Linked DNA regions of Homo sapiens. The protein of the gene in region 4 purifies or fractionates together with the protein of the main gene of each other region. This does not show direct contact. Each region holds a gene or a part of one and is shown on either strand. Other genes may lie near its edges.

What was found.
Region 1: the proteins of HOMER1 (region 4) and SPTBN4 purify together in Homo sapiens (affinity purification with mass spectrometry; 3 studies listed by BioGRID and IntAct, with this or other methods). This does not show direct contact.
Region 2: the proteins of HOMER1 (region 4) and FRYL purify together in Homo sapiens (affinity purification with mass spectrometry; 3 studies listed by BioGRID and IntAct, with this or other methods). This does not show direct contact.
Region 3: the proteins of HOMER1 (region 4) and DBN1 purify together in Homo sapiens (co-immunoprecipitation; 4 studies listed by BioGRID and IntAct, with this or other methods). This does not show direct contact.

The regions. Positions count from the first base shown.
Region 1 is NC_000019.10:40,567,996-40,575,017, reverse strand, and holds part of SPTBN4 (spectrin beta chain, non-erythrocytic 4), read right to left. Parts: coding exon 6,736-7,022; intron 5,362-6,735; coding exon 5,292-5,361; intron 4,583-5,291; coding exon 4,290-4,582; intron 3,000-4,289; coding exon 2,826-2,999; intron 2,681-2,825; coding exon 2,638-2,680; intron 1-2,637.
Region 2 is NC_000004.12:48,777,264-48,785,265, forward strand, and holds the start of FRYL (protein furry homolog-like), read right to left. Parts: upstream 3,017-8,002; 5' UTR 2,815-3,016; intron 1-2,814. UniProt on the Homo sapiens protein: Plays a key role in maintaining the integrity of polarized cell extensions during morphogenesis, regulates the actin cytoskeleton and plays a key role in patterning sensory neuron dendritic fields by promoting avoidance between homologous dendrites as well as by limiting dendritic branching.
Region 3 is NC_000005.10:177,463,624-177,470,645, forward strand, and holds part of DBN1 (drebrin), read right to left. Parts: intron 5,277-7,022; coding exon 5,221-5,276; intron 4,598-5,220; coding exon 4,485-4,597; intron 4,195-4,484; coding exon 4,120-4,194; coding exon of another isoform or gene 4,005-4,119; coding exon 3,858-4,004; intron 3,710-3,857; coding exon 3,632-3,709; intron 3,440-3,631; coding exon 3,288-3,439; intron 3,213-3,287; coding exon 3,149-3,212; intron 1-3,148. UniProt on the Homo sapiens protein: Actin cytoskeleton-organizing protein that plays a role in the formation of cell projections. Required for actin polymerization at immunological synapses (IS) and for the recruitment of the chemokine receptor CXCR4 to IS.
Region 4 is NC_000005.10:79,504,134-79,511,155, forward strand, and holds part of HOMER1 (homer protein homolog 1), read right to left. Parts: intron 6,885-7,022; exon of another isoform or gene 6,254-6,884; intron 1-6,253. UniProt on the Homo sapiens protein: Postsynaptic density scaffolding protein. Binds and cross-links cytoplasmic regions of GRM1, GRM5, ITPR1, DNM3, RYR1, RYR2, SHANK1 and SHANK3.

The DNA.
Region 1 (7,022 bases), on a different chromosome or scaffold from region 4:
TTTGAGACAGAGTCTTGCTCTGTCCCCCAGGCTGGAGTGCAATGGCTCGATGTCAGCTCACTGCAACCTCCATCTCCCAGGTTCAAGAGATTCTTGTGCCTCAGTCTCCTGAGTGTCTGGGACTACAGGCACGTGCCACCATGCCTGGCTACTTTTTGTATTTTTAGTAGAGATGGGGTTTCGCCACGTTGGCCACACTGGTCTTGAACTTCTGACCTCAAATGATCTGCCCACCTCAGCCTCCCAAAGTGCTGGAATTACAGGTGTGAGGCACCATGCCAGGCCAAGAAACTATTTTTAATCTTCATTGTGCAGATAAGTAAAAGAAGGCATGTAGTGGGTAAAGGCCTACTTCTGGCCGGGTGTGGTGGCTCATGCCTGTAATCCCAGCACTTTGGGAGGCTGAGGCGGGTGGATCACCTGAGGTCAGGAGTTTGAGACCAGCCTGACCAACATGGAGAAACCCCGTCTCTACTAAAAATACATAAATTAGCCGGGCATGGTGGCGCAAGCCTGTAATCCCAGTCACCCAGGTAGCTGAGGCAGGAGAGTCGCTTGAACCCGGGAAGTGGAGGTTGCAGTGAGCTGAGATTGCGCCATGGCACTCCAGCCTGGGTGACAAGAGAGAAACTCTGTCTCAAAAAAAAAAAAAGCCCACTTCTTCATTGCATCTTGTGAAGATTGAATGAGATAACAAGTGTTAGTTATTACTCTCAACATCTCTTCAAACCACCTTTATGCTTGCCTCTCTCAGACTCCTCTTCCTCCTCTCCCCACAGGCCTGTGTGGCCCAGCCATGCGCTCTCCCACTTGGGTCCCTGCCCTGGCCGCGGCCTGGGCTACCCACCCAGGTAGCCAAAGGAATCTTTTTTTGTTTTGTTTTGTTTTGTTTTGTTTTGTTTGTTTGTTTTGTTTTGAGATGGAGTCTCGCTCTGTCGCTCAGGCTGGAGTGCAGTGGCGCAATCTCAGCTCACTGCAAGCTCCACCTCCCGGGTTCAAGCCATTCTTCTGCCTCAGCCTCCCAAGTAGCTGGGACTACAGGCGCCCGCCACCATGCCCAGCTAATTTTTTTGTATTTTTAGTAGAGACGGGGTTTCACCGTGTCAGCCAGGATGGTCTCGATCTCCTGACCTTGTGATCTGCCCGCCTCGGCCTCCCAAAATGCTGGGATTACAGGCGTGAGCCACCATGCCCGGCCTGTTTATTTTGTTTTTGAGATGGAGTTTTGCTCTTGTTACCCAGGCTGGAGTGCAATGGCGCTGTCTCAGCTCACTGCAACCTCTGCCTTCCGGGTTCAAGCAATCCTCCTGCCTCAGCCTCCCGAGTAGCTGGGATTACAGGCATGCACCATAAGAGATGGGGTTTCTCCATGTTGGTCAGGCTGGCCTCAAACTCCTGACCTCAGGTGATCCACCCGCCTCGGCCTCCCGAAGTGCTGGGATTACAGGCGTAAGCCACTGCGCCCAGCCAGGAATCTTTTTTACACATCACTGTAATCCCCCCTAGCTCTCCAGTGCCCTTAGGTAAAAAATCCAATCTCCTCCAAATGGCCCATCCTGTCCTGAGACACCTATCTCCTGGGAACCTTTCTGGGACCTTCTTCCATGAACTCTGCCCTCCAGCAGTTAACCCTTTGCAATACTGCACCTCTGGTCCTCTGCACTTGCAGTTCCCTCTACCTAGATCACCCACCCCCTCTTGTTTTTGAGACAGAATCTCACTCTGTCACCCAGCCTGGAGTGCCATAGTACAATCACAGCTCATTGTAGCCTTGACCTCCCTGGTTCAGGTGATCCTTCCACTCGGCCTCCTGAGTAGCTGGGACCACAGGCATGTGCCACCACTCCCGGCTAATTTATTATTATTATTACCCATAGAGATGGGATCTTTCCGTGTTGCCCAGGCTGATCTTGAAGTCCTGGGCTCAAGCAGTCTCCTGCCTTGGCCTCCCAAAGTGCTGGGATTACAGGCCTGAGCCATGGTGCCCAACCTGAATCACTCCTTTTTTTAGACCCCCACTGTCCCTCTGAATCACCCTTTTTATTTTTATTTTATTTTCGAAGGAAGTCTCGCTGTTGTCCCCCAGGCTTGAGTGCAATGGCTCCATCTCAGCTCACTGCAACCTCCGCCTTCCAGGTTCAAACGATTCTCCTGCCTCTGCCTCCCAAGTAGCTGGGATTAAGGCACCTGCCACCATGCCCAGTTAATTTTTGTATTTTTTAGTAGAGACGGGGTTTCACCATGTTGGCCAGGCTGGTCTCAAACTCCTGACCTCAGGTGATCTGCCCGTCTTGGCCTCCCAAAGTACTGGGATTACAAGCGTGAGCCACCGCGCCTGGCCAAATCACCCCTTTTTAAAGCGAACTCCCTCCATTCCAGTCTCACCTGAGTGACCACGGCAAAGATGTTGGACTTTGTCATCAGGATCTGCAGGCAGCCCTCCCTGAAGCCCTTCCCACTCCCCACTGGGTTAGGAACCTCCTTTGGGCTCTCAGTGCCTGTGGGCTTTCCCATTACAGCCCTGATAACTCTGGCCTGTGAGTGTCCCTTCTCACAGCCCCATCACTCTGGGTCAGGAGCCAGACAGCCAGGTCATTACTGAGGTCCACACAGAGGGAGGAAAGGACCAGATCTCACCTCATCTTTTGCCTGGAGCAAAAACTCACTGCCATCCTGGGTCCTGCAGGAAGGGACACAGGACTTCAGAGATCTGGGGAAGGGGCCCAGCCCACCTGCCCACCAAGTGTCCCCCAGGGAAGCCAGGGTCCCACTGGGAGTTGAAGCTGAGCCTTGGATCCCTCCCTCCTGCCCATTGGGGGGCTCACTGGAGCTTGAAGACATGCTTCTTTTTCTTGTAGTCACTAGCCACCTCGCTGGTGGCCTTGTGCAGGCTGAGCAGCGGTTCCCCACCGTGTGTGCTCCCGGATGCCGGGCCCTTGGAGTCCTTGTAGAAGCCCAGTTCCCCCTTACTAAGCACACAGTACAGGCTCACCCACGACCTGGAGCGACAAGATGGGGCTCAAGGCAGAGCCGCAGCACTCTGCCTAATAACTCTTCATTAACATCCTCAAGGTCTGAATATGTCTGAGCCTTCCTACCTCTGGACCTTTGCGCCCTAGTTGCGCCCTAGTTGGACCTAAAATGCTCTTCCTTAAGGCTGTTGCTGCCCTGAGGGGAGCATTTAAGTCTCTCAGTATCAAGCCTTTGCCCAGGCTGAGATTTCCCTTCCTTATCCCCTCCCATACTGAATTTCCTGAAGGTAAGTCTTAAGCTGTCTCCTCCATAAGCCTTTGCTCCACTCAATCCTCCCCACTCATGGAGCTTTCTCAAGGAAAGTCTATTGGTCTACTGTCTGGAATAAAGAATTCCTGTCTCTCCAGTCATCCAAAGCCTCGATCCTGGAGGAATCCCTCCCAAAGCAAAACATACTAGGTGCCCTTGTTTATTCCTACCTTGGCATTAGGTACGAGGAAGAAAGACCACCTACAGATTCCACTAGCAAAATCTGAATCTGTCCTGCCCACTTCATATCTTGGGACTCACTCCATTACTGGCCGGTGATACCCCTTTTTGGCTCCACTTGTCCCCAGATTCTGCCTCTCAGTTGGACAAAAAGAGGGTGGACAAGCAGGAGCTGGACTCCCCAAGAGCAGGCACATCATGGCTAGACCCTCATTTGGAAACCTGTAAGAGATGACTCCCCCTTCCCAACCCCTACCCTCATTAGTTTGGGCTCTGCCCGTTTTCGGACCCTCCCCCAATTTGAAACTTCAAGGGTAGACCCACCCCACTCATTGGTTGAGTGACCTCTCCAAGCTCCACGACAAGCCATTGAAACCTTCTCAACTAGATGCCTCCCTCTTTGCTATTTAGCTGATCAACTCCTGGGTTGGTTGCTAAGAGGTTAGGTTCCAATTTACTCACTTTCAGAACATTTTCCTTCTGTTCCCACCTAAGCTCTACCCATCATCCATTAGATGCACTAACCTTAGGTCCTGCCCCTTCCTGTTCATTGGTTGGAATCATCAAAGTTGAGCCCCACCCCTCATCTGGCCCCACCTACTACCCCCACGGGTTGGAGGGCCTGACGTTAAACCACACCCCCTCCTGCTCATTGGTTGGCTTTCTTGATTTAAGCCACCACCACCCCCCAGCTCTGGCCCCACCTACTACCGCCACCTGCTGGAGGGCCTGAAGTTGAGCCACACCCCCTCCTCAGTCCCACCGCTCCACGCAATGGTCACCCTGAGCCTGAGACCCGCCTTCCAAAGCCCCGCCCACACGCTCACCGGTTGGACGACTTGCGGTTAGCGTCGAGCTCGCGCTTGCGCAGTAGGAAGCCCTCGTGCTGCACTGTGTGAGTGGGCGGTGGCGGAGGCGCGGGGGCGGAGCCGCCCTGGGCCGGGGCGGAGCGCGAGCGCCGGCTTCCCCCGCCCTCACCACCCTCTCTGGGCCGCGGCCGCCGTCGCGGCTTGGGCCGGTCCCGCGCCCGGGGCCGGTCCGGCCGAGGTGTCCGCTCGGGCAGCTCAAGCCCGTTGGGCAGGCGACCTGGGGGAAGCTCGCGTGGCTGAGGCAGCGACGGCTGTGTGAAGGGAGGGGGAAGAGGGGTGCTGTCCATGGAGAGGGTGTGGGGGTCATCTGTTTGGGGGAGTCATGGGTCTGGGGTCCCATCTGTCTACAGGGCCATTTGTCTCGGAGGCGAGTATGGGAGGACCTCAGGGTTGGAGGCCCAATTCTTAGGGCCCCATGGGTCTTGGGAGTGAGTCTGTTAGGACTCATTGGTTTGGAATCTCTCTCGGTGGTGGAAAGAGGCAGCCAGATCTCTGGAGGTGGGGGTGCAAGCAGGGCGTGTCCCCACTGTCTGCAGGAGAAACCTGGGGCTTCCTTCTGTGTGTGTGTGTATGAGGCTATGAAGAAATTTGGGACCCCACTGAGCTGAAGAAATACGGAGTCCAGGACAGATGTGGGAAGAGTCTGTGTGTGTGTGTCTGTGTGTGTATCTGTGTCTGTGTGTCTGTGTGTGTGTGTCTGTGTGTGTGTGTCTGTGTGTGTGTGTGTGTGTGTGTGTGTGTGTGTGTGTGGAGGGGCAGTAGGGGTCTCTTAGGTAGGTGCCCCGTCTTTCTAAGGGGGACATTTTCAGATTCTGGGGACCCTGAGAGTCCATGCTGTCTCTGCAGGGTCCAGGTAGGGAATGGGTCCTGCCAGGGCTAGGCACTGGCTGTTTCTGAGATCCTGCCTCCTGCTCTGAAAAAGGGGTCCTCCTATCCCCACCCATCCGAGGCTCAACTTACCCCAGCAGGCAGCCCTGGGCCTGCCTCTTTCTCCTGCAGCTGTTCCACAATGTCAGCCAGGGTGGCCTTCCTGGGGGATGGGGGACAGAAAGACCCAGTGAAACCAGGGTTCCTTCTCCCATGGACCTGTCTGGCTGGGCAGAGGAGCCTCCACTTCTTAGCTGGAAGTGCCAGGCCCCTGCCCACTTCTGCAGCTGTTTCTCTCAGATGCTCGCCTTAGGTACCACAGGTGTTTGGGACGTGTCTGCTGAATGGAAGACCAAACCTCTCGCCCCTTTGAATTTTTTTTTTTTTTTTTTTGAGACGGAGTCTTTCTCTGTTGCCCAGGCTGGAGTGTAGTGGTGCATGATCTCGGCTCACTGCAACCTCTGCCTCCTGTGTTGAAGCGATTCCCCTGCCTCAGCCTCCCAAGTAGCTGGTACTACAGGCGTGCGCCACCATGCCGGCTAATTTTTGCATTTTTAGTAGAGACAGGGTTTTGCTATATTGGCCAGGTTGGTCTCGAACTTCTGACCTCAAGTGATCTGCCCGCCTCAACCTCCCAAAGTGCTGAGATTACAGGCGTGAGCCACCGCGCCCAGATGCCCCTTTGAATTTTAAGCAGCACAAAGAACAACTTGCAAACGTTGCCTTTCTCCACCCACCCCTGACTCTCCAGTCCCCCAATCGCCCCCATTCCAGCCCAGATAATTCTCGGTCATCATTGATGACAAGCCTGTTTTTCCCAATGGACTGTGAGTCTCTAAAGTCAGGGATGGGACTGGTTCAGTCACCGCTCGACTCAGCACATGCCAGGCAGAGTGGGCACTCAGCAAATGTTCATGAAATGTGCAATTTAAAAAGAATCAAGAAGTCATTGTCTCCTGACCAAAGGCCTCTTTCTGGAGACACACTCAGCTGACTGGACAGATCTGCACAACACACACTGGCCAACTCTGGATTCTGAAAGTCCTGGTTCGTTTAAGCTGAGTGACTTGCCCTTTTTGTGCCTCAGTTGCCCTAGTCATACAATGGAGAAGACAACAGCCCCCACTTCATAAGGCTGCTGAGAGAATTGTGATAAAGGGTCTCCTCTCCAATCAAGGAGGTGAGGGTTCCACCATTAGCCCAGTGGGCAAACTGAGGCACAGAGAGGACAAAATCCCTGCCTCGGGGCACCCGGGAGACTTGATGCAGGAGTCACAACCCAGGGGCCGAGAACCTACGTCTGGAGAAAGGCAGTCTGCCTTTTCTTTCAACAGGAAGGGCTCCCCTTTCTGTGTAACAATGGGCACATCGATTATCTTGCAGCTTCAGTTTACACCTCTGCAAAATGGGTACCGCGGCGATATCTCCTTCTTTGGGAAGTTCTGAGCCCTGAAGCCCTTTCACTGGGCCTGAGGGGTTCTAGGAGCTCTCCGCTTTCCCCTCCCCTCACTTTCTGGTCATAAGGCGGGCACCTCACCCCTTGACCAGGTCTCCTCTGATGGGCATCTCCTGTTCGCTGGACTCCTGCCGCTCCAAGCGCCGCTCACGCCGCTCGCGCCGCCGCTCCATCTGCTCATAGCGGCCCAGGGTAAGGCTGTGTGCCGCCTCGTGCTCCGCTGACTCCTGCCGCTCCGGCCGCCGCCTCCGCGCAGCCTCCTCGGATTGATCGACTGACTCTTGCCGCTCAGGCCGCCGCCTCCTGGGCAGCTCCTCCGCGCGATCAGCTGACTCCTGGCGCTCCGGTCGTGGCCGCACCTGCTCCGC
Region 2 (8,002 bases), on a different chromosome or scaffold from region 4:
ATCACAATTTTGTACACAGAACAAAGAACCTCTAGATTGACATATCTTCCCCCAACAGTAAGCCAATTGCTGGCCTTTAGTATAAAATGTTCAGAAAGGTGTTTATTTAAAAAATTAAATAACTCAAGCGGCCTTTACAGGACATTATCTTTTTCTGTCACAAAGACCTAAAATAAGACATTTATTGGGTACTAAAAAGGTCCGAGGTGATACAGTGAATCTGCACAGAAATGGAGGATAATTCTGGCTCCCAAGGATCTCAAGAAACAGTTCATAACTCAAGAAATGTGTGCATATAAAACAATGTGTTTAAAACAATGTAGAAAGCACAAAAGAGGAAAAAGTCTTTTTCAGGAAATACAGTCTAGATATTTCAAAGATAATTATTTCTGAATGTTTTATTCATATGTTCTCTTCTAAAAGTTGAGAAATTCTTTTATTGTTTAAATAAATTGGTAAGTAAACAAAGACAGACATTTAAAAACTTGGTTTAACCGTCTCCTTTTATTATGAGATGGGAAGGAAGATTATGCCTAGCTGCTTGCCTGACATCCTTATCACAGAAATGGATCAAAGAAAAAAACAAAAAAGAAGAAATATTAGGTGAAACAATGCCAGATACCATCAAGATTACTACAAACGGCCAAGCACGGTGGCTCAGTCTGTAATCCCAGCACTTTGAGAGGCCAAAGCAGAAGGATCGCTTGAGGCCAGGAGTTGGAGACCAGCCGTCTATACGAAAAATTAAAAAGTGAGACCACCATCTCTACAAAAAATAAAAATTTTAGCTAGGCGCAGTCGTGCCCACCTGTAGTCCCGGCTACTACGGAGCCTGGGGTGGGAGGATCACTTGAACCCAAAGAATTTGTTTTTGTGTGTCTTTATTTCCTAAATTCTGTGAGAAGAATAGATTTTTATTTCAAACATTATCTGATATTGGCTTCCAATTTCCCAAGTAGTTTCTCTATTGTTACTGCTGAGCCTGTGAATTTACAATGTTCCACACCACTCCGAAGTTACTAGACAATAAATTAATCGATGAACGCTTTAAAAAGTTGGACTGCTTTAATAAAAAAAAAAAAAACTGGGTCACATGTTCCAACAGAATTCCCTCTTTTAGAGAACTAATTTTACAAAATAATTCAGAGTGGAAGACAAGACACGATGGAATGCTATTTTTGATAATGAGTAGCAGAAAAAAGACCAGAGAATAACACACCCACTGCTACTTTGTTTATACGGTTGTAACTTGCACATGCAAGTACTCTACATAAAGTATTGCACAAGAAGAAACTGTCAAAAATGAATGCTTATGAAAACATTCTTCACTAAGGCCTCTAACAAGGAATGTGCTATCTCTGATTTCCTCGGCAAGTATTGACAGATTAAGCAGAGTGATAATGCTCAAGATGAAAAGACGTCTTATACTAGTTTTTATCAATAGTAAAAGCTGTTGGTACTAATTATAATGGCTGTAAATTCAGTAGCAGAATCAACTTTACAGACGATATCTCCTAGGCAGCACAGCATTTTATAAAACCAACTTTACTTCCATCAAAACCCTTTTTCCCCCCCAATCCGACAGACCCTGGCAACCTGTCTTGCTGTGTCTTTTTTCCCCTACCCTTCCAAAAGAACCCCAGCCAGTGAATCGAAGTAATATTTTCCGCAGTTCAAAGGTAAGGGCAAACTCAGCTCTACTAAGAACTCTTGCTCCTCACCAGCACACACCCTAACCCCCACCCCCTTTTTTTTCTTTTCAAATCTTGGCCTAGGAAAGATTAATGCTCCCATATCATTGCAAATCCACAAAAATGCGATTTTAGGTGGCGAGGAACTAAACTAGGATGGCAGGAAAGACCGGCAGCAATAAATCATTTCGCCCTAGAAACCAGCCTCTCCAGAACGCAGGAAACCAGGCTGTGCCCAAAGAACCTGCCGCCCGGAAGCAACAACTTCCATCAAACGGCAAATAAAAGTTGCAAAGAAGAGCTCAGCGCCCAGGCACCCTGCCCGGTGCCGAGGCTGAGAGCAGCAGGCAATCTACAGGCCGAGTCAGCTCGCGGGCGGTGGCCGCGGTGTCCGCAGGGCTGGCTCCGGCTCCGGAAGACTCCGGGTCCCGGGGTACGCCAACGGCCCGGGGCTGCGCGGGCACAGCGCCCGCACCCCTCCCCAGGACCGCGAGCAGTGGGCGGAGAGACCAGAGCAAGGGAAAAGGCGGACAATGCCCGGCTGGGCTGGCGCGCTCCGCCGGTCCCCGCCAGCCCTGCCCGCCGGGGCCCGCCAGCCGCCGCGCTAAGTTTGCTCCTCAGCCCTCCCTTCCCAGCCGAGGCGGCGGAGCCGTGGTCGCCGGTCTTCCTCCACCTCTGCCACCGCCTTCCTTCCCGCGGGGCGGCTCCCGCGAGTCGGTGGCGAGGCGGCGCGCGACCAGAGCAGGACGCGCGAGAAGGCGGCGCGCGAGGGGTACCCGGGCGCGCGCGAGAAGAGCCAGGCACTGGAGGGGAAGGGGACGTGCGGGAGAGACGGGCGCGCGGCGCTGCCGGCGGAACCGCCGGAGCTCGGGCGGGCTTTCGGTTGAGGCTGGGGTTGCGCCGCGGTTTGGTGTCCGTTACGAGCGCCGGCCCGGGCCGCGCCGCGCCGCTTGCCAGCCATCCTGGACCGCCTTCCCTCGGCGCCCACCAGGAAGGACAGCTGGCGAGGGCCGACGACCTCGTCTCCCGCCCAGGCTGGGCTGCCGGCGGCGGGCATCCCGGCGCCTGCCCCGGGGCTGGAAGAGAAAGTAAAATGAAGCGCCTTTCCCCAGTCAACACCTACCCGTTCCCAGTCCTAGTACAGCTGCCTCGCTCCTCCAGCGCCGCCGGTCCCCGCCCTCGGGCCCCTGGCTCCGTTCTCTTGACAATGGCGCGTCCCCTTTAAGGAATAATCCGATCGGAACCGATCTGTGGTTAAACCTCCCTCCGACTCTGATTTTAACCGGATTTCTCTCTCGCTCTCTCCCAGAGCCCGACGGGCGCCCGGCTGTGCTGCGAGGTCTTCCCACCCCTTCCCTACCCCGCCCGCCCCCTGGCCTTCCTGATTGGCGAGAAACACTACAACAGGAACAGCAGTCCTCGCCCTCCACTGGCCTGGCCAGCCGCCGCTCAAAGTTGCTCCTACCTTCTCCCCGCCCCTTTTCCCGGGTTGGTCTTCCCTCTAATCATTCTCTGCCCTCGCCTCTAACGTTGCTTTGGAGCCCTGGCAGTCAAGGCTCACCCTCCCGCCTCCGGAAAGCGAACTTTATTTTTATTGGTGAAAGGACATCTTCCTGTACACTTGATTGGGCAAGGAAAGAGCTAGTCTGCACGCTCCCTACCATTATTACTCTCTCTTTACGGGCTTGAGAAACACAGCCGCAAAGTCCTCTCCGCTTTGCCTTCTAGGAGCGACTTTACCTTTAAATGTTGTTAGGGGTCGAGGACAAACTCATATCCTATATTGAGGAAAGCTGGAAAGGGACAAGAGAAAAATTCAAAATTTTCTCCCGATCAGTAATGTATCCAGAGCTGGCGCCCGGATCCTGCGGAACCTTATCCAATGATCCAGAGAATGGAATGGTTAGAATTGAGTTAGAATACCTGAAAGTCCAGTGCTAATTCCTCCTGAGATTTACTCAACAAGTTTCATCCACTGTCCGCCCTACTCATACCATTGATTGCACTGGCATTTTGCCACCCGGAAGAGCTTTAATCAAGTTATCTGCAAACCTGGAGGTTTCCTTGCTTGTCTCGCAATTGTTCATTTAGAAAATCATTTCCATTACAAGTTCCGTTTAAGTCACGTCCTCTGTGACGTTCCCGCGTTTCCACGAGACCTGTTACTTTTTTGAAAAAATTAAGTAGATGGTACCCTTATGCCATCCTCAAAGTGTAGGACTTCGTTCCCCCTTGCTAGAACTGTAGGAAAAACACCCCAGGTCACTTGAACAACTGAGATGCCTCTCAGGAGAAAACGAGTCTGTCTAAGGGAAAGAGGGAATCTGATACCAGAAGCTTGACCATGGAGCAGAACCTCACGCATTGAAAAGAGAAGAAATTATGGGGAAGCCTAGTGCGGGGTCTGCTTTAGAGTTTCCCCAGTTTCCCACTGGAGCTGTAAGAACTAAAAGGTTTATTTCCACTAAAATTGAGTACAGGTACAGCTTCGGTACCCATCTAAGAATGTTAGGGGAAAATGGTTATGTGTTCTCTCCCTCTTTGCCGATGAACCTTGAAGACTGTGTACCCCGGGGGCTTTAGTACATTTGCAGTGATACCCCAGTATAATCTAATGGTGCCAAGGAAGTGTCAGTGCTCAGCAGTACCCTAGAAAAGGGGCTTGATGATGACAGAGAAGGGTAAGTAAACATCAGTAGTTGGTAGTTCATAGGACTTTTCCCCAAATACAGGTGAAAAATTTCATGAGGATTCCCGAAAATATGAAAGAGCAGGAAACAAAAGGGAACGTTGCAGGAAGGTGGTTTAGGTATCACTAGTGGGGGCAAGAGACGATGAACTATCTGGGTTGCATTTATATGGCCTTCACAGATACACACATCCTCCCTATTAAGTCCCTATAACTAAATCCCTATGCTTAGCCTATTCTGATTTTACTGTATAATAAAACTGCAGCCAAGCTAAACTAATACTTCTGGTTTACTCACTTACCACTCTCAAACTCTGAGACTGCTTCTGGGTTCTAATATTCTACATTAGAATATAAGAAGAAGAAGATACTATGTACTGATATCTAGTATGATCTTCTGGAGATAAAGATATCCAGTGTTTCAGGCATGTACACACCTGCAGCTTTTGTTCAAGGTCTAAGTGATGTTTTCAGGTTCTTTCTAAAACACCTGCCCTATGATATCCAGCTTGTTACTGCCCTCTTTTGCTGCACTAGCAGACTGGGCATATAAACTAGAGAAGGCAGTCTACAGTAACCTCTAGATTCTCTTACTTGCATTGAACCAACTATGCTGAGATTATCACCTTTCAAGTATAATTTGTGTTATTCTTTTCTCTAAATATTTCATATTTGCCCACAATAGGATCATTTATCACTTTTTAGCCCACACATGCAACTTCCTGGTACTAATACTCCTACTGGCATTTCACAGCAAAGAAGAATTTTAAAAATCTACAAACCTGGAGCTTACAACGTAGAGGTTATTCTTAAGAATGTTCAGTGTTGATGAACACAGCCCCAGTTCTAACCCTGGAGAATTTTACAAGTTGTACTTTCTCATTCAGAGAGACTTTATCTCTCTACCTTAGTTTCTCATTCTAAGCCCAATCCCCACTCTTTAAAAAAAGAATATTTCTCGGCTGGGTGCAGTGGCTCACGCCTGTAATCCCAGCACTTTGGGAGGCCAAGGCAGGTGGATGACTTGAGGCCAGGAGTTCAAGACCAGCCTGGGCAACATGGCGAAACCCCATCTCTGCAAAAAATACAAAAATTAGCTGGTGGGAATGGTCACAGGCCTGTGATCCCAGCTACTGGGGAGGCTGAGGCAGGAGAATCACTTGAACCCGAAAGGCGAAGGTTGCAGTGAGCCAAGATTGCACCACTGTACTCCAGCCTGGGCGACAGAGTCTCACTCTGTCACACACACACACACACACACACACACACACACACACACCCTTCTCCAATGTGCTAATGTAAATAAAGCTTTTTAAATTATTGTATATAGATGTTTGTTAAAGTCTTTTAAATGGTGAAATACCTCCAGGCACCATGGCTCACACCGTGCCAGTAATCTCAGCACTTTGTGAGGCCGAGGCAGGCAGATCACCTCAGGTCAGGAGTTCAAGACCAGCCTGGCCAACATGGTGAAACCTCGTCTTTACTAAAAATACAAAAATTAGCCGGGCGTGGTGGCGCATGCCTGTAATTCCAGCTACTCGGGAGGCTGAGGCAGGAGAATGGCTTGAACTCGGGAGGCGGAGGTTGCAGTGAGCTGAGATCGCACCACTGCACTCCAGCCTGGATGACATAGCAAGACTCCGTGTCAAAAATAAAAAATACAAAAAAAGTGAAATATGTTATGATCACTATTCTCCCTGTTTATATGCAAATGTACCCCTCAAAGAGGTTCCATAGTTTAACCAGTAATTATTTTTCCTCTGAAAAATTATGTTACCATTCCTATTGGAAATTCTTTCCAGTTCACCACACACTTATATAGCGACTATTATGTGTTAAGAATAGTGAGAAAATGGGGGCCAAGTGCAGTGGCTCACACCTGTATTCCCAGCACTGGGAGGCCGAGGCAGGTAAATCACTTGAGCTCAGGAGTTCGAGACCAGGCTGACCAACATGGTGAAACCCCGTCTCTACTAAAAATACAAAATTAGCTGGGCGGGGTGGCGCGTGCCTGTAATCCCAGCTACTCAGGAGGCTGAGGCAGGAGAATCGCTTGAACCTGGAAGGCGGAGGTGCGGTGAGCTGAGATGTTGCCATTGCACTCCAGCCTATGCAACAAGAGTGAAACTCCGTCTAAAAAAAAAAAAGAATAGGGAGAAAATGATGAATATGTATCCATTCTCCAGAGAGTATGTCATGAATCTCCACCTATAAGGGGCACAGTTTTTACCCTTTATTTCCTTCAAAGCTCTTGCGTGGAGACTATGTATTCACCAGAGATTTTTCTATAGTAAAATTTTTAAAAATCCAGAGCATGGTGTGATGGTGCACACCTGTAATCTCAGCTAGTGGGGAGGCTGAGATGGGAAGATTGCTTTGAGCCCAGAAGTTCAAGGCCAGCCTGGGCAACATAGCAAGATCCTGTCTTTTTTTTTTTTTTTTTTCAAAAAAAAAATCCAACTAATGGAAGCTGTCAACCAAAATCATTTCCCCTGTCCCATTAATATTGATGAGAATAAGTTAAAAGAAAATAAGTCACAGTAGTTTGATTTAATGAAAAAATTCCAGGAAATAGTTCCACAGTCTCCTAGGTCTCCCAGAGGAGGTCCAAGTCCTTCACTCTCTAAAGTTAAATGTGTTGCTTTGTAAAATAAGAACTGATATTCATTGAGTATGTCACTGAAAGGTCTGCAATTATCAGTAAAAAATTCAATTGTGTTCAGTATATTTCACCTACTGGGTAGAATGTGGATATTAATACATTTTTAGAAAGCTTTCCAATTATCTCTTGCTTAAAACCCTTTAGAGATTTCTCTAGGCACATTCTGAATATAAACACCGCAGCAAAACGTACAAGTCTCTTTATAATCTGACTATAGGCTTCTTCTCAAATTTCTTCCCTGACCACTCCCTCGTTTGACACTGGAAGTGTCTGCTCTCTCAATATCAACTATCATGTTCTTTCAAGCTTCAATGCCATTCCCTTTGTGTAGAATAGCTTTCCCCTCTTTGCTCATCTGAAGGACACTTCAATCCATCCATCAAACTGATGGCCCAATAGAAGCATTGCCCTCTTTATGCAGTCTTCTCTAGTTGCACTCCCTTCCTTGACTTAATTATTCTTTGTGCTACTTTTCTACTACATATATACTATTTTGTTATAGGTATCACTTTGAATACAGAACTTAAATGTTTCTTTTCCTGTCTCTTGTACTAGTCTGGTTTGTTCTCACAGAGCAAAGCCAGGATTATGTATCATCGCATGGGCATCATTTAGTATGATGACTGGCATAAGTGAGGCTTTCAGTACAGCATGTCAAATTGAGCTGAATGAGCACAGCTGAAACCAAAAAGTTAACCTACAATGTGAAAATCTAATTAACCACAAGACCATTCTAGGAGCATTCTAATTACTTGATATTTTATTGCAAATCTATCTTATCAATTAGTAAAAGATCACTGGTTCTCAGACTTTTTTATTTCATGAACTGGTAAAATTTCCAAGGAATTTTTAGGAACTGACATAAGCTTATCAACTTTTTAATTTTTCCGTGTAAGGTACAAAAATAAATATAAATAAAACTTCTATCTATTCTCATTATTTCATAAAATAAGAATA
Region 3 (7,022 bases), about 98 Mb from region 4:
GAAATTGAAAGGGTACCACACTGACCTGCTAGAATGTCCACTGTCACTCTCACGTGAACTATACTTGAAGGGCCAGATGGGACTATAAAATAATGGTAAGCTCCTTCAGACTTTACCTGAAATGTTGATAACTGGTGAAAATAAATCAGCTCAGGGGGTTCACAACACTATTCTGTCTACCTGCATGTGTGTATGTTTGAAATGTTAGCAAAAAAATAAACTTTATCAGGGCTGGGTGCAGTGCACTTTGGGAGGCCGAGGTGGGAGGATCACCTGAGGTCAGGAGTTTGAGACCAGCCTGGCCAACATGGTGAAACCCTGTCTCTACTAAAAATACAAACATTAGCCGGGCATGGAGCCGTGCACCTGTAATCCCAGCTACTTGGGAGGCTGAGGCAGGAGAATCGCTTGAACCCAGGAGGCAGAGGTTGCAGTGAGCTGAGATGGCGCCATTGCACTCTAGCCTGGGGGACAAGAGTGAGACTTCATCTTAAAAAAGATAAATAAATAAAAATAAATAAATAAATAAATAAACTTTATCAGGCAGGGTGCGGTGGCTCACGCCTGTAATTCCAGGACTTTGGGAGGCCGAGACAGGTGGATCACGAGGTCAGGAGTTCGAGACCAGCCTGACCAACACGGTGAAACCCTGTCTCTACTAAAAATACAAAAATTAGCTGGGCATGGTGGTGCACGCCTGTAATCCCAGCTACTCAGGAGGCTGAGGCAAGAGAATCGCTTGAACCCAGGAGGCAGAGGTTGCAGTGAGCTGAGATTGTGCCATTGCACTCCAGCCTGGGCGACAGAGCAAGACTCTGTCTCAAAAAAATAAAAATAAATAAATAAATAAACTTGGCTGGGTGAGGTGGCTCACACCTGTAATTCCAGCACTTTGGGAGGCCGAGGAGGGCAGATCATGAGGTTAAGAGATCGAGACCATCCTGGCCAACATGGTGAAACCCCATCTCTACTAAAAAGACAATAAATAAATAAATAAATAAATAAATAAATAAATAAATAAATAATAAACTTTATCTGCTGGGTGCGGTGGCTCATGCCTGTAATCCCGGCACTTTGTGAGGCCGGCGGGTGGATCACCTGAGGTCAGGAGTTCAAGATCAGCTTGGCCAACATGGTGAAACCCCATCTCTACTAAAAATACAAAAATTAGCCAGGCGTGGTGGTGGGCGCCTGTAATCCCAGCTACTTGGGAGGCTGAGGCAGGAAAATCACTTAAACCTGGGAGGCAGGCCGGGTGCAGTGGCTCACGCCTGTAATCCCAGCACTTTGGGTGGCTGAGGTGGGCAGATCATGAGGTCAGGAGATCGAGACCACCCTGGCTAACATGGTGAAACCCCGTCTCTACTAAAAATACAAAAAATTAGCCGGACGTGGTGGCGGGCACCTGTAGTCCCAGCTACTTGGAGGCTGAGGCAGGAGAATGGTGTGAACCTGGGAGGCGGAGCTGGCAGTGAGCTGAGATGGCGCCACTGCACTCCGGCCTGGGCGACAGAGCGAGATTCCGTCTCAAAAAAATTTAAAAAATAAAAAAATTTTAAAAAACCTCACTCTGAAAGGATAAATAAAATGTGGTATATCCATACAATGGAATATGATTCAGCCTTCAAAAAGAAGGAAATTCTGATGCATGCTACAACATGGATGAATCTTAAGGACATCATGCTAAGTGAAATAAGCCACACGCAAAAGGACAAACACCGTGCGATTCCACTGATAGGCAGTCTCCAGAGTAGTCAACTTCATAGAGACAGAAAGTGGAATGGTCGTTGCCAGGAGCTGGCGAGTGGGGAAGGGCAGAATTTGTGTTTAATGGATGGTGGTGGTGGTTATCCTACAATGTGAATGAATTTAATGCCGCTTAATGAAATGCAGATTTTAAAATGACTGAAATGGTACATTTTATGTATTTTGCCACAGTTACATACATGTGGCCAGGCGCGGTGGCTCACGTCTATAATCCCAGCACTTTGGGAGGCCGAGGCGGGCAGATCAACCGAGGTCAGGAGTTCAAGACCATCCTGGCCAACATGGTGAAACCCAGTCTCTACAAAAACACAAAAATTAGCTAGGCATGATGGTGTGCGCCTGTAATCCCAGCTACTCAGGAGGCTGAGGCGGGAGAATCGCTTGAACCTGGGAGATGGAGGTTGCAGTGAGCCAAGATCACGCCATTGCATTCTACCCTGGGCGACAGAGTGAGACTCCATCTCAAAAAAAAAAAAAAAAAATACATGAATCAACTTATGAAAAAAAGATCTTACCCAGCTCGTTCTCCACCATGTTCTTTATGTGGCAGGTGGCAGGTGTGTGTTGAATGAATGACTGAGGATGGAGCTTACCAGCCACACATCATCCCCACCCCATCCAAGGGCAGATGTGACTGGAGTGACTTAATGCTGCTGCCTGCAGGACTGTCTTGCCTCCTCTCTCTCAGCCTCCTGTGGGTGACTCCGGAGCCCGTTTGAGTCCCCACAGCCATGCATCTGCCCATTACAGTCCCAATCCAGATGAGTATCAACCCACCTCCCTTCCTGAACTGAGCCATGCTCAGTCCTGAATGACATTAGCTATTTCCAAAATACTAAATTCAAAGCATGGAGATGTGACTCTGCTGTGATTCTCAGGGACCAATCCACAGGACCTACGGGCCATTCCCAATGTGTGGAGATTCAGACAGTACCCCTGGAACAAAGGGGCTGCTCCCAGGGAGATGCTGCTCCCAAGGAGATGGTACACACTGCCTGCAGATGCTCAGCACTGGCCCAGGCTCACCCATGCCGCCTGCCTCACTCCTGTGGCCCCTCAGAGTGCAGAACAGTGTCTAATCGCCGAGAAACCCCAGGGCAGGGGAGGGGGAGCCTGGTCAGTGAGGGTCTGGGTCTAGATGGAGTTTCTCTTCCAATCTAGAGCACAAGCTTCTCCAAAGTAGTCTTTTTCCACGGCCAGAGGCCAGAGCCCCACGTGATGAGGTGCCAGGCCTCATGCTCCATGGCACCCTGTGCCCATGCAGCTCCCCAGAACAGCCACCACTGTCCCTGAGCCACTGATCTCCCCACAAGGCCCAGGAACACAGGGACCATTCTCACTTCCCTGACCCAGAGACCGGGAGCCTTGGCAAAGAACTTACAAAGATAGACTGCTCCTTCAACCGCCTCTTGGCCTCTTCCGCTTCTAAAGTCTGCTGTTTCCTCCTGGAACGATAAGCAGCCAGCACCCGTCAGGGTGCGCCCGGGGGCCCCTGGAGCGCTCCGGGCGGGCAGGCTCACCTGTGCTCCTCGATCTGCTGCTCCCGCTCCCGGTAGCGCCGCTCGCGCTCCTCTTGCTCCTGCCGCTCCTGCTCCATCCGCTCCTGCTCGAACCTGAGCCTCTCATCCAGGGCCTTCTTCCGCTCCTCCTCCTTCCGCAGCTCTTCTTCCTTCTGCAAGCCCCGGTGCGAACAAGGGTAGGCCCCGAGCCTAGGCGCCTGGACCCTGCCCCTCCAGCCCCTCCCTAACCCAGCGCTGGGGGCGGGGCACGTGGCATGGGCCATGCCACTGCAGTGAGGGACTCAGACCTGCCCCATGGGGTCCATGAGGGGTGGCTCAGCCAGGCCGGGCTCAGGGTTCCATACCTTGGCCTGCTCCCAGAACTGCTCTCGGTTAATCCGCTTCATTTCCACAGCTGCATCCGTCTTCTGGTAGGTGGTGCCCTGCAGTGTCGAAGGACCCAGCATAAGCAGGCTGAATGCCCCAGGAACCCCCGACACCTAAAGGGTGAGAGCTAAGAGGGACCGGGCAGGCCAGACTCGGGCACCAGGCCACGCAGGCAGAGCCCACGGGTGCCAAACACACACTAACCACGGGCTCTGCGTTCTCATCCTCTCGCAGCCGCAGTCGGTGCAGCACAGGGCTGGAGAGTCGCGCCAGCCCGTTAGAGAGCCGCTGCCCGATGGCACCCGCGTCTATGTCTTCCACGCTGCTGGCGTTCACGATCACGTCGACACCCTTCCGCAAGAAGACGGCAGTGCTCAGGCGGCACCATCCTCCCGCCATCCCCACCCCAGCACGCAGACCCTGGTGGCTGTCCCCACCCCCAAGAGCGCTGGCCCCTGACACGCACCTGGAAGAACTCCGCCACCTTAGCCACGTGGCTGGCACAAGCGCACTTGCGGGCATCAGGCACATCTTCGCCCACCTGCAAAGTACCCAGCAAAGAGGGGGTCAGGAAAGGACAAGGGGGGCCCTACACGATAGGGTGCATCTTCCCCGGGGTGGGAAGAGGGTGGGCTTCCCTCTCCACGGGTGTCAGAGGGCCGACGGGGAGGGCGACTGCTCTGGGCCTTCAGTTCCCTTCCCCAGCCCCGGCCGCATACCCAGTTGATGAGCAGCTCTGGGCCCTCAGCCCCCTTCCCCAGCCCCGGCCGCATACCCAGTTGATGAGCAGCTCTGGGCCCTCAGCCCCCTTCCCCAGCCCCGGCCGCATACCCAGTTGATGAGCACGTATTTTGGCAGAGCAGCTTGGGAGTCCTTGACACTGCAGAAGCCGTACATCACCTTCTGGTTCTCAAAGTGTCCCGAAAGCTCCTGCAAGCCCCCTTCTAGGGTAATCAGGAGAGTGTCAGGTCTCTCTGCCTCCTAAACCCTTCCCAAAAAGAGCCTGGAACTCAAAGCAAAGACTCCTCCAGGCCTCCACAGGCACCCCCAGGGGTCTTCTGGCCTCTGGGGTCTGTGGGTCCCAGTTTTGTGTTGGTATGTGTGGGGGTGGTGGCGCACAGGGATGTAGCTTTGCCTGTGACTCCTGCAGGGCCTGATTTGGGGGTAGGACTGAGGAAGTGTTTGTTCTTCACACTCAGGTCTCATTCTTCACACATCATCATGTCTCACCAGGTGCCAGTGCCCAGAGGCACAATCAAGCCTTCTGGCTCTGGGGAAGGCGGTGAATAGGGCCCTTCCCCCAAAGTGTCCCAGCTGTGTGGCTTCAGATAAGTCACTTTCCCTGTTGGAGGCTCAGCCTCAGAAGTCCAACATTCAACAAGGCTCTGAGATTCCTCCCCACCCTGGGGACACAGGGATGACTGGAGGAAGGACACCCGCCAGATCCAGACAAGTGTGGGGCTGCAGGGTGCAGGCAGGGAGGTGGCCTACAGCCAGGTGGGTGGGGAAGAAAACAACCAGGAGGAGGGGGTGGAGAAGGCGGCGAGGGAATGGCTGGAATTCCTACCTCCTGATGCTGCAAGCTTGAGGTCATCGGAGCCATCTTCATATGTGTACAGAGCCCTGGGGAGAGGGAGGGGTGGCTGTCAAACTGTCAGGGCCCAGGCCGCCAATTCTGGGTGGGGACGGCTCTGGGGAGGGAGAGGGACATGGAGTGGGTAGGACAGGAACGGGGAGGGCTCCTGCTGTAGCCATGACAACAGGGCCAGGCATCGGTTCAGGCGGGAGCCCAGCAGGGTACTGCTGGAGGCCTGGGTCAGGGGGGCGCAGGCAGTGAGGGGAGAAATTGCTGGCTGGTCGAGCTCAGTGCGCAGCATCCCGGCCCTGGCCCTGGCAGCCTACAACCCAGTGGAGCGGGTGTGTGATGGAGATTCCAAGGCGACGGTTCCTTGGTTACCGTTCCCTGGCTACCAGGATCCTCATCCCCCATTGGCTAGTGCCAGGAACTTACCTGGCACGTGCCTTGGTCCCCGCTGCCCCTCCCCCGGGGAGGGAGGAGGAGAAGAGAGAACCTGGTGCTCCCAACAGCTCTGGGCATCCCCCAGTAACCATGGCAACCCTGCAATTGGCACACGACTGGCCCACCCCAACTGCATTCTCCTTGAACACAAAGGACCCTGGGGACCCGCCCTCAGCCTCAATCTCCGCCTCTCTGAAATGGGGATGAGGTCACTGCAGTCACTCTCGCCCAGACTCTGGCCCCGGGGTGGCCAAGCCTGAGCTCCAGGCCTTCCAGCCCCTAGGCTGCCTCAGTCCTGGCTGAGGCTTCCTGAGACTGCTGGCCTTTCCTTCTGTCTGAGCTCTAACAGAAAGCTGACCTGGTGGCCTTCCTCCTTCCTCCTCCTCCCTAGCTTTGTGTGCCCTGGCTCCTTTTGATAGGCTGCGGTGACAGAGCAACCATTGCACAGAAGGGAAGGCAGAGATGCCTCCTCCATCACCCCATGCAGGCCCAGGCTGAGGACCCTCTGGGAGGGAGGAGAGCCGGGGCCTAGGAGGAAGGGCCTTGTCCCTGAAGTTTGAAAGGGCTCTCAACCCCTTCTCCAAACTCCTATTCCCCAGGTGCCAAGGCAGGAGGCTGGGGCTGTGAGGAGGGGAGGCAGAAAGGGAGGGCAAGGGAGAAGAGAAAGAGGAGGGGAGAAGCAGAGGGAGAAACCAGGAGAGGAGGAAGAAGAGAAAGGACAGAAGTGAAGGGACAAAGGAAATGAAGGCGGGAGGGATGGAGGGGACGTCTCAGGAGGTTGTGGCCAGGGCCAAATGGCCTCAGCCCCTCCCCTTCCTGGATTCCCGGCTTCCTACCTCCAGGAAGGAACACAGGTGGGCTGTGGGGCTGGGAGCTCCTGGTCCAACTGTTACCCCCAGCCCCAGCCTGGCCCTGACAGATGCTTCCAGCACAGCTGGCCCACCACCTGTCCTGCTGCCCTAACCCACCACGGGAACAAAGGGCCCTGGGAGAAGCAGGCTCTGTCTCTCTCCATGCACTGATGAGAAACTAATGCAGAGCCCAGGGACCCTAGTTCCTAGAGACTGCTGTAGACATCAAGCCTCCCTCTGAGAGGACCTGTCTTGGCCTGCCTAGGCTCCCCGGGGTGCCTTCCATCCTCAGCCCCTGGCTCCCCACCTCCGGCCACCTCTTCCTGCTCCAGCCGCAGCTCTCCCCCAGCAGAAACCATACCCCAGTTCAAACCCTCCAGCCTGCCTTTCCATTGGACCACCCTGTCCACACCACACACTTGGGACACACTGGACGGCTCCCTGACCCAAGCAGGGTTCTGGACAGGGCTCACCCTGAAGCCTCTGCCTATGTAGTTC
Region 4 (7,022 bases):
GCAGCCTGCGAGATCTAGAATTTTTTTTTTTAAATCAACAGAATCTCAAGAAAGACGAGTTTAAGAGTGACTTGGGAGTAGTCCCACTGAGCTTAATGTATACAGAACCCTGGCAATACTCAGTAAACAAGAGTAGGAGGAATCCTCAATCTGTAAACATCCTGGGAGCTGGCAGAGTGATTAAGCAAAGCACACAAATTTTAATGTTAAAAGCCATGAGACAGTGATTCATAACAGAGTAAGAAAGAAAACAGCACTGTTTTACAAAAGAATAAGCAAAAAAAAAAAAAAGGGCACAGAAAGGTAAAGGGATAGGCTAAGCAACTTAAATATTATAATAGGTTCAAAATATTTGTCCCATATACATTTAGGAATGTACAGACTTATCTTCCAGGAAGACTGACTGATAGAAATTCCTAATATGAGTATTTTGAGGTCTTTGATAGTCATGTCCTAAAGATCATTACTAAGAGCCAATGAGGGAAGCTAGAAAGTAACTGGGCAGAAAATTCCAACTCACACAAAGAAAGTCTTGTTCAGAACAACTCTTATAAATACTTAAATAAAACAGAAGAAAGACAATAACTACTTAAGATTGAGATATACGTAAATATAAAAGAATCCAAAAATTTACTTAGAAAAATTATCAGAAAAATAATTGGTATATCCAACTATCGGCCTAATTGCTAGAAATCAGGATTTTCTATTTATGAGCACTAATTCCCCCAAATCCTTTCAACTAATATTGCACATATGTACTGCACTATGAACTTGTGGGTTAGGAAGCACAGCGTATAATACCCAAAGAGATATGTATCAGAGCTATGTCTCTCAGTAGACTTCTATTAAGACTCCCCAACTAGGCTGGGCACAGTAGCTCATGCCCATAATCCCAGCACTTTGAAAGGCCAGGGTGGGTGGAGCACTTGAGGTCAGGACCAACATGATGAAACCCCATCTCTACCAAAAATACAAAAATTAGCCAGGTGTGGTGGTGCACCTGTAGTCCCAACTACTCCGGAGGCTGAGGCAGGAGAATCATCTGAGCCTGGGACATGGAGGTTGCAGTGAGCTGAGATGGTGCCACTTCACTCCAGCCTGGGTGACACAGCAAGACTCTGTTTCAAAAAAGACTCCCCAACTAGACAATGAGAAATTAGGAACAAACCATTCTATGGAAAGGGGGGGAATCATGGACATTCTCCTCTACAGGCCTCTGGACTCTGAGGCATGTGACCACATGGATCCAGACATGCCAATAGACATGACATAATAAACATGACTTTCAATGATCTTGTAAAGTAATGAAATTGTGTTCCCTAAGCACAGTTTTTTGTTTGTATTTAATGTCTACCTAACTCTTGCTTGGTAATTTTACAGAAAGCCCTCAATTCTTACAACTTTTGTGCCTTGAGGACATGGTGCCAACACTTCTCAAAAGATAACATTGAAACTCTTCTTGTTTTATGAAAGAACATTAAAATAAGATGTTCGTAAAGCCAAGCTAATTTTTAAAGCTAATATTAATATTAGGTGTTAAGAGATAAAGGTGATTTTTTAAAAGGTAGAGAAAATGAAAAGGTAAGTGTACTATGAAGATAAAACATTGATTAGATTACTGGTTTTGGGGGGTTTTATAAACAATTTTATTTTCTGATACAAGACAGAAAACAATGACTTTTTGCCTTCCTTTAGTAGTCTACCTTAATAGAAAAAAACATAAATAAGGGTAAATAAGATTCAGTTATTAACTAAGTCAAATGTTAGTTCTATGTATAAAATTATTTTAGCTACGCAAGAGCCATACTGGCTTCACAATCCATTTTTGGGCGGACAAAACCTCACTGAAAGAATAGTAAAAAAGATGACCCTATAAAATTAATTCTATTATCTGAAATGTTTAGCAGACAAAAAAAATTAAATTAATTCTAAATTGTACTTACCAGAGAAGTGAACAAATTTTTAAAAACTTTTATTTATTTATTTATTTATTTTTTTGAGATGGAGTTTCCCTCTGGTTGCCCAGGCTCAAGTGCAATGGGGCAATCTCGGCTCACTGCAACCTCCGCCTCACAGGTTCAAGCGATAAAAACTTTCAAAAACAAGATTTTAAAAAATCCAAGTAGAAGAAAAAGGCAAAGCAAAAAAGATTATATGTGTTGATAATTTCCCTCAAAAATACTGCTTAAAACAAACAGCATTGATTCTTATCAGTTTCATCTTTTTTTCCTTTCTCAGACATTTCATGAAGGAGCACAGAAATGACAAATGTGTTACACTCAGGACAGACGGAAAAAGGAGTATCAAAAGGTATGAAATGCTAAAATTAAGAACATAAGTTCATCAATAAAGTTGACTCTTTTAACAGAGAGTCATTATGGATGTCCTAATTTTATAGACTATGGAGAGGCGTGCTGTAAAAATTAAGATTAAAATACATGATTTTGGCCAGGCGTGATGGCTCACAGCAAGGCAGACGGATCACTTGAGTTCAGGAGTTCAAGACGAGCCTGGGCAACATGATGAAACCCCATGCCTACAAAAAGTACAAAAATTAGCCTGCCATGGTGGTGTGAGCCTATAGTCCCAGCTACTCGGGAGTCTAAAGTAGGAGGATTGCTTGAGTCTGAGAGGTCAAGGCTGCAGTAAGCCATGATGGCACCACTGCACTCCAGCATGGGCCACTGCACTGTCTCAAAAACAAAACCAAACAAACAAAAAAATATATATATATATGATTTTATTCACATACTGAAGACCATTGAATGATTAGCTTTTAAAAAGTTTTACCTACTCTTGGCAGGGCGCGGTGGCTCATGCCTGTAATCCCAGCACTTTGGGAGGCCGAGGCAGGCAGATCACGAGGTCAGGAGTTCGAAACCAGCCTGGCCAATACGGTGAAACCCCGTCTCTACTAAAAAATGCAAAAATTAGCCAGGTGTGGTGGCGCGCACCAGTAGTCCCAGCTACCTGGGAGGCTGAGGCAGGAGAAATGCTGGAACCCGGGAGGCGGAGGTTGCAGTGAGCCAAGATCGCGCCACTGCACTCCAGCCTGGGTGACAGAGTGAGGCTCTATCTCAAAAAAAAAAAAAAAAAAAAAAACCAAAACAAAAAAAAAACAGTTTTACCTACTCTTGCAATACTCATTCAGTAAGATAGATGTGAAAATTTTATCTCAATTCTTCTAGATGGTAGATGGGCTAAAATCTAAATAAATATTCCTTATCACATGTAGATTCTTTTGAAATGAACATATTTAACAGACCTGAAACTTTGCAATGCCTCAAAATCACTCAACTTTTCAAAAACAAACAGAAATATTAGCCACGGGTCATAAGGCATTACAAATATGCAACACAAAAAAACTGCACATTTCATTCCACGAGATACGACCTGAGATATAAATCTATGTAAAATGTTTTATAGTCATTTAAAAACTACATCAGAAAAAAATTATATCAGAAAACATTAAGCACTCGGCACTCATTTTCCCTACTCTTCTGTCCAGTTAGTCATATTAATCTGAAATAACAATCCAGTAACTAAAAATAAATACTTCAACTAAACACTAAAGACTGAAAAAAAAAAAAATCACATGGCAGTAGAGAGGTTAGACCTTTTGGGATATAACCACCTTTTCTTCTGAGATGTTTAATCACTCAAAACTATAAACTATGAATAAGGACAGTTTCTTCTGTCAACCCCTTAACTCCCAAATTCACTATTTTATGACCCATAGTTAGTGACTCTGCTAAGAACATACCATGCTCTTTGCTACATTCTTACCTCTCCAATGAAATGTCCTAATTCTGAAAAAGCCCCGTTCAGCCAACTACACATCTCTCAGTCACCATCCCTCCCCTCCCCACTTCGGAACCTTCCAGGGCCTGCCCAACTGTCCACTTCCTCTACCCAGCCAGAGTTCATTGTTCTGGCTTGGTGTTTCCACAGGATACAAGACACAAAACCAAATTGTAAATGATTTTTAAAATTGCTTTCTTATTCTACTTCCCTGATCATGTTCTTACTCTGCTTAAAACCCTTTAGTAATCTTCACACAGAAGAGAAGTGCTTTTCAAATTACCAGTTGCTAACACAGCGTCATTAAATAAATTGAGTGGGTCACCATCATCAGTCTATCTTAAAAATAAAATAGAACGGAACAGAATAGAAACTACCAGAGTGTACCATACAAAGCAAGGGTATTATGTAGTGACATTTTATCATTTATATACAAGCATATTGGGTTGCAATGTAAAGATGCTTATCTTTCCAACGGGTCATAGCCAAAAAAACCTCTAAACACACTAAACTACAGGATAATCCAATCTTTCATTTGATCTACATGGTTCTCCAACCCAGTCCCTGCATAATAAGGCTCTAGACCTATCTCTTGCTACACCAAAGGGAGCTAGCTCAAGCAAACAAGCTTGTCATGCCAAACTCCTTTGCAGTTCCTCGTTTTAGTGGTGTCAATCACTGTTCTCTCTGCCTTGAATGCCCTCTTATTTGTCTAAGAGGCTCACTTGTACTCATCTTTCAGTATTTAACAACTATCACCTCCTCTACAAAGCCTTTTTATCCTTCCCTCAGCAGCTAATGCCCCCCCAACACACACTTTGTGTCTCCATAATGCCCTACATTATAGCTCCTACAAAATTTCATTGCACATTTTAATTTTAGGCTTGACTGTCTGCCCAACTTCCAAAGTATAAACTCACTAAGGGAAGGAGCACATTGTATTGGCCTTCCTATCAGCAGCACTGAGGTAAGTACACGCACTATAACAAAGGTTCAAAGTTGGTAAAATGAACAAATGACGAATTAAGGACTTGCATCTAAGTTGTCTATTGTCAGATATGATAGGGTGGTTATCTTTGCAATAAAACCCATTTATAGTGCTGGATCAAGATTTTCACATTTTTGCTACAACCCCTAGAGAGCAGAACCCTGCAGTTTGAGGCAGAAGGAGGTGTCAGCTTCCCATCTTTCAGCAAAGAGACTCAGTTTGGGCTGCAATGTAGCAGCACTCATTTCCATGCTTCTGGAAGTTATTTGGGGAAAGAGGGGAAGGAAGGACTCCAGAAGTTCCCATAGGCAGGTGAGATAAATCAGAAACAGCATTAACAGATTCCATTAGCAGGGAGAGCCCCATTTTATGTATAAGTAGCTCTTAATAAGGGAAGGGAGGGAAAGAATTCTTTACCATTGCTGATGGCACTAGGTTGCCAAAATGAGCTAAGTAAAAACAAAGGGTTTCATGAAATAAGTGGTTGAAGTTACTTGATTTCTGTTGCCTACTGTGATAGTTCTGAAATAGCTACTGACTCACTGCTGTCATTATGAGATACTATTTGGAGGTGGGGGTGGGGGTCATACCTAACAGGGGCTCCTCACTGAGGCTTCAAAACTTTTCAGAGACTTCATTTTACATACATGAATGCCTTAATTTTTAGGGGATCTGATACACCTATTTTACAAACCCATACTTTAGTTGCCTTCACTGCAATTAACAGTTCATGCAACATCCAAGATACTTTGACAGACTTTGCCAACTGTCAAGTTTCAGCTGTTCTTCTCCATTTCCAAAAAGTTCATAAACTACTATTAGGGGAGCCATAATTTTTTTCTGCCCAATCACTGATTTTATTAAAAATAATTCCTTTGCTTAGACTGCCCCTAGACTTGCAATAATTATCTACAATTAAGACGAAGATAAATCCTTATTATAACCTAACATTAGTTTAAAAAAAGAAGGTTGTAATATGTGAAACACTTTACCCACAGTATTAAATTTTAGATATCTATTACAGTAAGGTAATTATGGATTGCCAAGGTAAAGCTTTAAAAGCCATTTAAAGCCCTGTTTCCTTTTGCTTGAAATAGGTCCAGGCAGCTATGCTAATTCCACAAACATTTATTAGGCATAAATACGCATAAAGTGTGGAAACGTCAGCAAATGCCTTTGCTGTATGCTCTTCTACTTCCATCTACCCTTCCTCTCTCTACTCAAGTCACTATCAATGAGAAAGGGTCATAGCCCCAAATACAGGCTTTCCAAAAAAAAAAAAATAGCACCACAAAATGCTCGCTCCTTTTTCTCCTCAGTCCATATATAGAACTTTATTAACTAAAGGGCAGATACATTCATTTATAAACAAATTAATTATGCTAAGTGTCTAAATGCATGTTATGTGTGGTGCTAACTTTCCCACTTTAAACAACAGCCCCCTTAGTATTAAATTCATCCTGTCTCTTCAGATTCTAGGCGCTTCAGGAGCCGCGCCTTAAGGTGCAGACATGGCCAAGTCCAAGAACCACACCACACACAACCAGTCCCAAAAATGGCACAGAAATGGTATCAAGAAACCCGAAGCACAAAGATACGAATCTCTTAAGGGGGTGGACCCCAAGTTCCTGAGGAACATGCAGTTTGCCAAGAAACACAACAAGAAGGGCCTAAAGAAGATGCAGGCTAACAGTGCCAAGGCCATGAGTGCACATGCCAAGGCTATCAAGGCCCTCCTAAAGCCCAAGGAGGTTAAGCCCAAGATCCCAAAGGGTGTCAGCCGCAAGCTCAACTTGCCTACACTGTCCACCCCAAGCTTGGGAAGCATGCTCGTGCCCGCATTGCCAAGGGGCTCAGGGTGTGCTGGCCAAAGGCCAAGGACAAGGATCAAACCAAGGCCCAGGCTGCAGCTCCAGCTTCAGTTCCAGCTCAGGCTCCCAAAGGTGCCCAGGCCCCTACAGAGGCTTCAGAGTAGATATCTCTATCTGCCAACGTGAGGACAGGACTGGTGCGACCCCCCGCCAGGCTGCCATCTGCATGGGGCTGTGGGGCTGGGGTCCTCCTGTGCTATTTGTACAAAGAAACCTCAGGCAGGGAAAAAAAAATTCATCCTAAGCTTCCCTTGGTAAAATGACAGGCATTCATGCAGCTTAAAGGTTCTGGAAAACTGATTTTCTTCCATGATGCTACTACTCCACAGTCTAGACAAAATGCAGCCATCAACATGAAAAAC